Homo sapiens: one gene and its partners. The protein of the gene in region 1 purifies or fractionates together with the protein of each later gene. This does not show direct contact. Each region holds a gene or a part of one and is shown in the gene's direction. Other genes may lie near its edges.

Region 1 (3,978 bases):
ACTAGAAATACCATTTGACCCAGCCATCCCATTACTGGGTATATACCCAAATGAGTATAAATCATGCTGCTATAAAGACACATGCACACGTATGTTTATTGCGGCACTATTCACAATAGCAAAGACTTGGAACCAACCCAAATGTCCAACAATGATAGACTGGATTAAGAAAATGTGGCACATATACACCATGGAATACTATGCAGCCATAAAAAATGATGAGTTCATATCCTTTGTAGGGACATGGATGAAATTGGAAACCATCATTCTCAGTAAACTATCGCAAGAACAAAAAACCAAACACCGCATATTCTCACTCATAGATGGGAATTGAACAATGAGATCACATGGACACAGGAAGGGGAATATCACACTCTGGGGACTGTGGTGGGGTTGGGGGAGGGGGGAGGGATAGTATTGGGAGATATACCTAATGCTAGATGACACATTAGTGGGTGCAGCGCACCAGCATGGCACATGTATACATATGTAACTAACCTGCACAATGTGCACATGTACCCTAAAACTTAGAGTATAATAAAAAAAATAAAATAAAATAAAATAAAAATAAATGAAAAAAAAAAAAACAAAAAACAAAAAAAGAAAAAAAAAAAAAAAAGACCCAAACAGGCCAATAACTATTAGTTATTATCTCTACTGAAAAAGTGGGACTTCCTGTTATGAATAAGGGAACTAACTGAATTCCCTGCTACCTAATTACCTTCTGTAGCTATACTTACTGACAAAAACACCATTAATTTTTTTAGATACCAATTTTTTTTAATACTATGAATCTTAAGGGAAAATGGCTTCACCTCAAAAATACTCTGTTACTTGCTTGGAAGATAGACGACTTTAAGCTGATGCTGATAAACTTGTGGCTTCCAAAGTTTTCCTTACTAATTCTAAACCCAAAAGGTGCCTGGCAGTCTCTGCTATGTCTGTTTCAAGTAACCCTAGCTCTATATCAGGAGACATTTTCCTTATAAACAGAAACATGGTAAATCTTAAGTTCCCTGCAATTGAAATGCTTGGCTGTGAATTTGATTTCATAATCAGAGCGGACTCTATAGTCTTTTCATTCAATATTCCTGCAATTAGATAACCAATCGCAGCCTAGAAACAACCTCCAAGGAGACCCAGTGACATTGCTCCCATAGTTGATGCAACAATCACCATGATGACCCAAGCTTTAATCACTCTGATGAACACTGCTCTCCTGCCTAGAGATACCACTGAGTCCAGAAGCAAGACCTGTGAGAGTGCACAGTGCCACTTCGCCCCATGGCTGAAGATGGTTTGCCCAAAATTTATTCTCATCCTCCAACAGAAAGCAGTAAAACACCAACTGCAGCAACCATTTTCTTTGGGGCTGACAATGCTATTCCCAAATCAGAAACAACTATTACTTCAGAAGGAGACCACGTCACTTCAGTAAATGAATATATGCTAGAAAGCGATTTTTCAACAACTACAGACAACAAACTGACAGCTAAAAAGGAAAAACTCAAATCAGAAGATGATATGGGGACCGACTTTATTAAGTCAACAACTCACCTACAGAAAGAAATTACCTCTCTGACTGGCACTACAAACTCCATAACAAGAGACTCTATTACCGAACATTTCATGCCAGTGAAAATTGGGAATATTTCATCACCAGTTACTACTGTTTCTTTAATAGATTTTTCCACTGACATAGCAAAAGAAGATATCCTCTTAGCTACCATTGACACAGGAGATGCAGAGATCTCAATAACCTCTGAAGTCTCTGGCACACTAAAGGACAGCAGTGCTGGTGTTGCTGACGCTCCTGCCTTTCCACGTAAAAAGGATGAAGCTGATATGAGCAATTATAATTCCTCCATCAAATCCAATGTCCCTGCTGATGAGGCTGTCCAGGTCACTGATTCCACTATTCCTGAGGCTGAAATCCCTCCTGCTCCTGAAGAAAGCTTCACTACTATTCCAGACATAACTGCCCTTGAAGAAGAGAAAATAACCGAAATTGACCTAAGTGTTTTAGAAGATGACACCAGTGCTGTGGCTACATTAACTGACTCTGATGAGAAGTTTATCACTGTGTTTGAACTCACTACCTCTGCTGAAAAAGACAAAGATAAACGGGAAGATACTCTGCTAACTGATGAAGAAACTACCGAGGGAGCCAGTATTTGGATGGAGAGAGATACTGCAAATGAAGCAGAGACCCATTCTGTTTTGCTTACTGCTGTTGAATCCAGATATGACTTCGTTGTCCCTGCATCAATAGCTACAAACCTAGTGGAAGAATCATCTACAGAAGAAGATTTGTCTGAAACTGATAATACAGAGACTGTACCTAAGATCACTGAGCCATTTTCTGGAACTACCTCTGTATTAGATACCCCAGACTATAAGGAAGACACCTCCACAACTGAAACGGATATCTTTGAACTACTGAAAGAAGAACCCGATGAGTTCATGATTTAAAAGCAACAAAAGGGATACCATGTAGAATTGTGCAATAGTCTAGCCAGCTAGCCTTAACATCTAAGAAATTTTTCCAACAAGCAAAAACCTTTAGAAATGAAAGAATGTGGGCATTTAAGGCAAGTATTCGACTCAATAAATGCAGATGCTTAGGACTACAGGTCATGTAACAGATTTACGGAAACTTAGAAAAAAAAACCGCAGTGTAAGGGTCCCCCTAGTATCACAAAGTTTCAATATTCTAACAATTACTTAATGTAAAATTTTTCGTCCTAGCCTTCAGGGAGTATGAAGACAGAGCAATGTAGGGGCTCATTTCTACAACATTTAATGATGCATATCATTTAGTTAACAGTCAATATTATACTTAAGTGAGAATTAAGGATATGAAGAGAAGCAAATTAACCTCTCCAAAACATTACCATAGCCTAAAAAGTTCTCCCAAAATGCTTGTTCTAAGCAATTTTTTCATTAGTATTTCATCAGTGATTCTCTTCTATTTAAAAAATTTTTAATCCTCATATAAGAATTAAGACAATTCAGTAATTGTTTAGCACCCACATGTAAGATACATAAGATTTATGATAGGGTTCTTGGCACATGTTAGATACAAACTAAAGCAAAATGATATTTTACAAATATGCATATTTGTCAGAAAAATGTTCTGTAAACATATACATCAATTTAATTTTCTTTCTGTTAAAATGTGTTTTCTGAATTTTTGTCCATGTTTTCCAGGTCTTAAACACTGAATATCACACTCTTCTTATGACTCTTGTTAGCGATTCAAGGACATAAATCTTCATTCTTTTCTGGCACAGACTACTTAAATGGGTCTGTTTTCACTTTGCTCATTTTTCTTCAATAAATCTTTTTGGCAAGCAACTGATTTACTGTGTGTAGGTGTGTTTGATATTCTACTACAGACTTCTCAAATTAGGAGAAATAAAGAGAAATGAAAATTCATTGTTTGTTTAAAGAATAATATAGCTCTAATCCCCAGAAGTAAAATTATTCTATAGAGATTCATAATTGTATTACACTAAAAAAAGAAATAAGAACAATGCCAAAACACCAAGTGAATGAAAGATATTATGTACGGGGGGTTTGTATAGGGATTTGCACCATTAGATAAACTATAGACTAGAATAATCACAACAGTGTGTTAAAACCCAGAAACAAATTACGAAACAAAAATTTGTTATACAGTGAAGTGGACTTCAAAAACATGGGATATAATAGTTAATCTTACTTGAACAATCAGTATTTGGGAAAAAAATATGTTGGAATAATAAACAAATTTTTAAATTCTTTTTAAGACCATACTTTAAAATAAATTCTACATGGATTAAATACTTTAATGTAAAAACTAAAACCATACAAAAACTTAGGAGGAAATGTACCTGTATATCTATCCAAATGGACCTGAGAAATGTAAGCATATATGAAAAGGTGATAAGAAGATTGATAGGTTTGACACCATGAATAGTTAAAATTCTGAAACAA
Region 2 (3,655 bases), on another chromosome or scaffold:
CCGTGTTATCCCACTCTTCCCTGGCGCTGGCGGCACCTGTGCTGTGTGCCATGTTATCCCACTCTTCCCTGACACTGGCGGCACCTGTGCTATGTGCCGTGTTATCCTCTCTTCCCTGGCGCTGGCGGCACCTGTGCTGTGTGCCGTGTTATCCCACTCTTCTCTGGCGCTGGCGGCACCTGTGCTGTGTGCCGTGTTATCCTCTTTTCCCTGGCACTGGCGGCACCTGTGCTGTGTGCCGTGTTACCCCGCTCTTCCCTGGCGCTGGTGGCACCTGTGCTATGTGCCGTGTTATCCTCTCTTCCCTGGCGCTGGTGGCACCTGTGCTATGTGCCGTGTTATCCTCTCTTCCCTGGCGCTGGTGGCACCTGTGCTGTGTGCTGTGTTATCCTCTCTTCCCTGGCGCTGGTGGCACCTGTGCTATGTGCCGTGTTATCCTCTCTTCCCTGGCACTGGCGGCACGCACGCTGTGTGCTGGGGTATTCACCTCTTCCCTGTGGGGAATAAGGCTTGAGACTTGCTTCCTTCCTGCCCTTAAGGGATGTAATAGCTTTGTCCTCACTGTGCCCCTAAACTGATTTGGTTTTCAGTTACATATTCAGCCTCACATGGATTAAATGCTTAGATAATTCATTAACTATGGAGTAGTTACTGATTGGCTAATGTCATCTGGAAATACATGACTGAAAGCACTTTGTCAAAACCCTGTGCACATTGCAACATGCATGGCTCCGCGGCCCTGCGTGTATGGGAGCAGCAGGTGGGTCTGCTGCTTAGAGGACGGCTGTGCTCTTCCGCCGTTGAGGTGACTCTGGTGATGTGTGCATGTCTTGCCAGTTCTGCGTTCGTTTCTCTTGTCTGTATGCATAGCTTCCTGTTTCTCGTTGGTTTGTGTATGTGTTGGGTAAGGCTTTGCTTCCTGGATAATGAGTGGTTGAAGCCATAATAAAATGTCTAGGGCGTGGGCGGGCACTGCAGGTGAGTCTGGGCAGCAGTGGTGGTGGCTGTGCTGTCCGTCGGCGAGTGGTCTGAGAGTGTCTTTGTGCTTCCTCCTCAGGTGTCGATTGACTGCCCGTGGTCCATCTACTCCACAGTCATCGCACTGACCTTCAGCGTACCCTTCAGGACCACACACAGCCTCCTGTCCTCAGGAACACGGTAACGGAGGCGTAGCGTGCGGGCCCTGGCTTCTTTCCCCAGACTCTTCTAAGTGGAGGTTCCTAATGTTCAAAACTGGCCTTCGTGGTGACCAAGGATGTCTTCTTATGTGACCACAAGGCCATTGTTTGTGTCTTAAAATCCACAATTCCCTGGTGTCCTGTGACATCCAGTTCATATTCAGGTTTTCCCAACTGTCTGAAAATGACCTTTTATGGTTGCTTTGTGTGACTTGGGGTCCAAAATCTCCATCAGACCACTAGATCTCTGTTCATCCTTTCTTCCCTGTTTTCAAGCCATCGACTTGTTCACTTGCAGGCCAGGTTTCCTCTGGACGCCCGCCTTTCTGGATCTGGCTGGATTTGTTAACTAGTTCTCCTGTCCCTGTATTTCTTGTCAATTGCCTGCAACCTCTAGAACAGGAGCTTTTAAGCTCAGCATTAGTGACATTTTGGGCTAGATAACTCTGTTGTAGGGGCTTTCCTGTGTGCTGTAGGGTGTTGAGCAGCACCCCAGGCTCTCCCATGAGATGCCAGTAGCACTCCCCACCTGCAGGTGTGGCAGCCACAGATGTCTGTAGACACTGCCCAGTGTCCTCTGGGTGGGGCGGACGTGCCCCAGTGGAAAACAGCTGCCCTAAAGGCTTGAGTAGACTCCAGTTCTGCTTTGAGGCAGGCGGGGCTGTGTGCTTCCTGTTGACTGCACCGGGAGGCCCACGGTGTCCAGGTGTCCTACCTTAGTGACGGTGCTAGCGTTGATCAATGGGCTCGGGATGCTAGCCTGGCCTCTCACCACAACTTTTTATCCATTGATGATGTGTGGATAATTTGGAAACAAAAACGTCAGACCCATGTTTAGAATGGAACATTATACTAGCAGCTTTTTTCCCCTTCAAATCACAGCAAAGGGAACTGTAGATATTAATAGTTAAAAACATCAATAATCTCTAAAAGAACCTTATTAAAAAATTATTTTTCAGCCGGGCGTGGTGGCTCATGCCTGTAATCCCAGCACTTTGGGAGGCCGAGGCAGGCGGATCACGAGGTCGGGAGTTCAAGACCAGCCTGACCAACATAGTGAAACCCCGTCTCTACTAAAAATACAAAAATTAGCCGGGCATGGTGGCGGGCGCCTGTAATCCCAGCTACTCGGGAGGCTGAGGCAGGAGAATCACTTGAACCTGGGAGGCAGAGGTTGCAGTGAGCTGAGATCGTGCCATTGCACCCCAGCCTGGGCGACAAGAGCAAGACTCTGTCTCAAAAAATAGTAACTATTATTAATATTTTCAAAGTTTTGCATGTAATGGAAATGGATATAAGCCCCGCCTATCATCTCTCAATGGAGAGTCTTCACCTGTAATGAGGAGGGCTGCTGCTGTCTCCCCGTGGCTCCCCAAAGGCCAGTGAGGGTGACCAGCCATGATCACTTAATAAGGCTGGTCAGAAACTATATTCTTTCTTCCATTGCCTCACAGAACTTGCCTCTTTAAAAACTTTTTTTATTTATTTTTATTTGTTATTTTTTTGAGATGGAGTCTCGCCCTGTCACCAGGCTGGAGTGCAGTGGCGTGATCTCAGCTCACTGCAACCTCCACCTCCCAGGTTCAAGCAATGCTCGTGCCTCAGCCTCCCGAGCAGCTGGGATTACAGACACGTGCCACCACGTCTGGCTAATTTTTATATTTTTAGTAGAGATGGGGTTTCACCATGTTGGCCAGGATGGTCTCAATCTCCTGACCTCATAATCTGCCCACCTCGGCCTCCCAAAGTGCTGGGATTACAGGCGTGAGCCACCGTGCCCGGCCAAAAAGGTTTATTTTCTGGCACTTTTCGGTGTGAAATCTGAAGGGAAACTTATGCAACAACTTAGCTTACTTTGCTTTGTTGCTTTTTTGATTCCCCAGGCAGAGAGGGTCTCCTTAACAAAGCTAAGATATATTTAATAAAGTTCTTACATATCAAAATAATACTTTTTGTTTTTCCACTTTAGGAAATATGTTCAAGTTTGTGTCCAGAATTTGTCAGAACTTGACTTTCAGCTGTCAGATAGTTATCTTGTAGATACCGGTGATAGTACCGACCTGCAACTAGTACCACTGAACACGCAGTCCCAGCAGGTAAACATTGTGTAGACCTGAGCATAAACTTCTCAACAGAGAACCAGAGTGTACGGAAATGATGTAGTATGTGTTGCGACTGAGCCTTTAGATAGAACAGCTGCACTGCTGATGAGTAAAGGCTCCTGTGCAGCTCCTCCGGCTGCCCTGAGGCTGGATCGAGGCTTGCTCCTGAGTAAGCGGGTGGCTGGATGGATGAATTCTTCTTTTTAGAAGAATTAAATCTGAAACTGGTCCCACTCTATGCGTAGACGTGTGCAGATCCAAGCTTCTGTTTGAACGCACTGTTGATTGCATGGGCACTGCTCCACTCTGCCCAGAGCCTGATGCCTGCCAGTGCCAGAGCGATGGTGCCCGACACCTTGGTGCCTTTGTAAAAGA
Region 3 (3,655 bases), on another chromosome or scaffold:
ACTGACACACCCTGTCCCCAACAGTGTTAAGGGCATCCTGTTTTTGTTACTAGGACATTTTATATCATCACTGAAGCAGCTATGTATTGAAACTGGAGTTAAATGCCCATATCTCCTATCAGCTTATGAGGGACTCAAAGTCAAAAGCCTTTTCATTATTGGATCTCATCTACCAGACTGCTTTTGCACAAACTACTTGTTCACTGTGTTGATAACATGGTTTGACGGGAAGAGGGGATGTAGGTTTTGGAATCCAAAGACCTGAATATGAACATAGGCTCTGCCACTTATTAGCTGTGTGCCAGTCTGAAAACCATATAACCTTTGTGATTCTAGTTCTTTCTATTTGGCATAAAAGTCATTCAGTCTACCTTGCTGTGAAGATTAAAAGAGATGATGTAAATTCCTGGCTCTGTAGGAGCTCAAAAAATGATAGTTACAGTTCAACTGATTAAATAATGAAAAGGGTTCCTGCTGTGAGCATCTGATGGTCATGATAATGTCTGAAGTACTTTATTTTTTAATTGTTCAGCCACGAGGAGGGGTGGAAGAAGGCCCTACAGTATTGAGAAAGGCTGGTCTGCTTGAGAAACTTAAAGAACAAGGTAATTTTTAAGTTGAAAAATGATCAGCCTGATTTCCTCCCCACTCTGAAGGAAAGAGCAGGCCCCTGTGAACCTGGAGTGTGTCTGGAATATTTACATCAGAATTGCGGTACTGGTTACAACCCGAGAAACACATCCTACAAAAGCAGCAGGGCATGGGGAGAATGCTCAGGAAACATTGCTGGATGTACATCCTCACTCAGATATTTTGTCTTTCCAGCCAAACTACAGTATAAGATAAATTGTGTGTGCAAGAACGGGGGTTGGGGTGGATGGTAGGGGAGCCGGGGGAACAGCAAATGGAAGGCAAGGTGCAGCAGGAAGTATGCTACTAGCAAGAGGACCCCTATTTGTGAAATAAAATAAAATAAAACAGTAATAATGATAATAACAACAGCGCCTAGTGTGGGCGCAGTGTGTATATATACATACATATACATAAGCATGCAAATGCAAATTTACGTATATTTTTAAAGTATGGGCTCAATTTTCTGTTACCTTTACATATAAGATTCTGATAAAGTGTTGGTCAGGATGTGGAGAAACTGGAACCCTCATATATTTCTGATGGGAATGCAAATGATACAGCCACTTTGAAAGTAGGTGGGCAGTTTCTCAGGTAAACATATATTTACATTTTGACCCAGCAGTTCTACTCCTGGGTGCAGAGAAGTACAACTACAAACATTCAAGTACAAGTCTTTGTGTGGATATGTTTTCATTTCTCTTGGGTAAGAGATTTGTGCTTGAATGTTTGGGGGCAGCCATATTTATAATAACCAAAAAATGGAAACAGCAAAATGCCCATCAACTGGTAGATGGTTAAACAAAAAGTGTCACATCCATGCAACGAGATAGTATTCAACAATAAAAAGGAATGGACTGGTCGGGCACGGTGGCTGAGGCCTGTAATCCTATCACTTTGGGAAGCCAAGGTGGGTGGACTGTCTGAGCTCAGGAGTTCAAGACCAGCCTGGGCAACACAGTGAAACCCCTTCTCTAGTAAAAATACAAAAAAAAATAGCTGGGCGTGGTGGCATGAGCCTGTAGTCCCAGCTACTTGGGAGGCTGAGGCAGGAGAATGGCTTGAACCCGGAGGCAGAGGTTGCAGTGAGCTGAGATTGCGCCACTGCACCCCAACCTGGGCGACAGAGCGAGACTCCATCTCCAAAAAAAAAAAAAAAAGAAAAAGGAATGGACCGCAAACACAGGCAAAAACATGGTAGATCTCAAAAGCAGCATGATAAGACAAGAAAGACTACATGTATGATTCCACTGATACGACATTCTGGAAAGACAAAAGCATAGCAAAAGAAAGCAGATCAGCAGTTCCTGGGGTTGGGGGCAAGAATTACCTCTAAAGGGGCAGGATGGAATTTTTCAAACTCATTGACCCGCACAGTTAAAATTAGTGAGTTTTAGTGAACAAGAATTACACTTCGTAAATCTTTAAAAAAAAAAAAAAAAGACAAATACAGACACCCAGTAGAGAACAGAATGCTTGGGTAATGGACTTGTCCCTTAACTGACAAGCATAATTTGGTCACGTGTTGTATCAGGTGAAATTTCTTGGAGGCGTTACTAAATCAGATTCACACAGACATGTAACAAATACCATATTTAATGGCCAATTAGTTCAGAACACCGAACTGAATCACAGTTTTACATGACACTCTCTACTTTTCAAGCCTAATTCAAGGCCTTTTAGGGAGCACACCCAGTCCTTAGGAATTTGGGGTTACCTGCAATTTTTCCTTACTAAAAAGAATAACTAAAAAGCTTTATTTCCGAAGCTTCCAAAGTGTTAGGCTCAGTGCTAAGTACATATTCACATATTCTTATTTATTTATGATAATACCACTATGAGGCAGGTTCAATGGATACTTTGTGTGTCTGTGTGTGTGTGTATCTCCAGATGAAAATACACCAGTGCTTTCTAAATTTTCTGAGAATACATATATATACCGATATATATGTATTTAATTATTATCAAAATGAAGCATGCTTACTATAGAAAGGTAAAAAGCACATAAGCAGAGAGAGACAGAGAGACAGAGACAGAGACAGTGGCATTCCCTATTAAGCCCAAACCAGAAGATTATCACTGTTACATTTTGGTGTCTAGTTTAACTGGATGGATTCAAGAAGTGTTCACTGAGAGCCCAGTATACAGCCGCACCAGTGTGTGATACTGGTAACATGACGTCAAGCAAAAGCAGACATGGGTCTACCTTCCCAAGATTTACAGACCTTTCAGGTTTTTCCTTTGCTTATACTTGTGAATATATGCCTATTTTATACAATTGAGATCATCCTACACAGACTGATTTATAATCTACTTTTTAATTTAGTAACTCAAAACTTTTTAATTTTAGAGTGTGATGTGAAGGATTATGGGGACCTGCCCTTTGCTGACATCCCTAATGACAGTCCCTTTCAAATTGTGAAGAATCCAAGGTCTGTGGGAAAAGCAAGCGAGCAGCTGGCTGGCAAGGTGGCAGAAGTCAAGAAGAACGGAAGAATCAGCCTGGTGCTGGGCGGAGACCACAGGTCTTGTTGAATAACTGTGTCTATGGGAATCTGGCACAAAGGAAGTAACCAAGGCCATAAGAAGAGAGAAAATTTAGAAATATAGACAGAAAAGCATTGACCTATATTTTATATCAAATTTTCTGCCTTTAAAAAAATTTTATAGGTTACTTTTATTATAGAAACAGACTTCGCTCAATTTGAAGTCTTACAATATCTGTATTTTGACCTAGTACAGCAGAAAATGTATGAAATATGAATGGATTTCATCTAAATATTCATCACAAGCTTACATTTCTAAATAAGTATGTGAGGCAATTCATAGCTTATTTGTTCTTAATTGCCGATAATATATACAACTCATATAGGTCAACAATTTCAAAGCATGTGTTTTTCATTATAAAAGTAATGATCATAACATTTTTGAAAGCATCAGACACACACACACAAGAAAAAAAATGTGGTAATTGTACTTCTCTAGCAACCATTTCAACCAGAATTGAAAATCTGGCACATTTCTT

The links.
Region 2: the proteins of CABS1 (region 1) and TRAPPC10 purify together in Homo sapiens (affinity purification with mass spectrometry; 3 studies listed by BioGRID and IntAct, with this or other methods). This does not show direct contact.
Region 3: the proteins of CABS1 (region 1) and ARG1 purify together in Homo sapiens (affinity purification with mass spectrometry; one large-scale study listed by BioGRID and IntAct). This does not show direct contact.

What each region holds. Positions count from the first base shown.
Region 1 is NC_000004.12:70,333,756-70,337,733, forward strand, and holds CABS1 (calcium-binding and spermatid-specific protein 1), read left to right. Parts: upstream 1-1,225; 5' UTR 1,226-1,284; coding exon 1,285-2,472; 3' UTR 2,473-2,591; intron 2,592-3,210; 3' UTR 3,211-3,361; downstream 3,362-3,978.
Region 2 is NC_000021.9:44,088,776-44,092,430, forward strand, and holds part of TRAPPC10 (trafficking protein particle complex subunit 10), read left to right. Parts: intron 1-1,057; coding exon 1,058-1,158; intron 1,159-3,147; coding exon 3,148-3,274; intron 3,275-3,655. UniProt on the Homo sapiens protein: Specific subunit of the TRAPP (transport protein particle) II complex, a highly conserved vesicle tethering complex that functions in late Golgi trafficking as a membrane tether.
Region 3 is NC_000006.12:131,576,131-131,579,785, forward strand, and holds part of ARG1 (arginase-1), read left to right. Parts: intron 1-532; coding exon 533-605; intron 606-2,956; coding exon of another isoform or gene 2,957-2,980; coding exon 2,981-3,155; intron 3,156-3,655. UniProt on the Homo sapiens protein: Key element of the urea cycle converting L-arginine to urea and L-ornithine, which is further metabolized into metabolites proline and polyamides that drive collagen synthesis and bioenergetic pathways critical for cell proliferation, respectively; the urea cycle takes place primarily in the liver and, to a lesser extent, in the kidneys.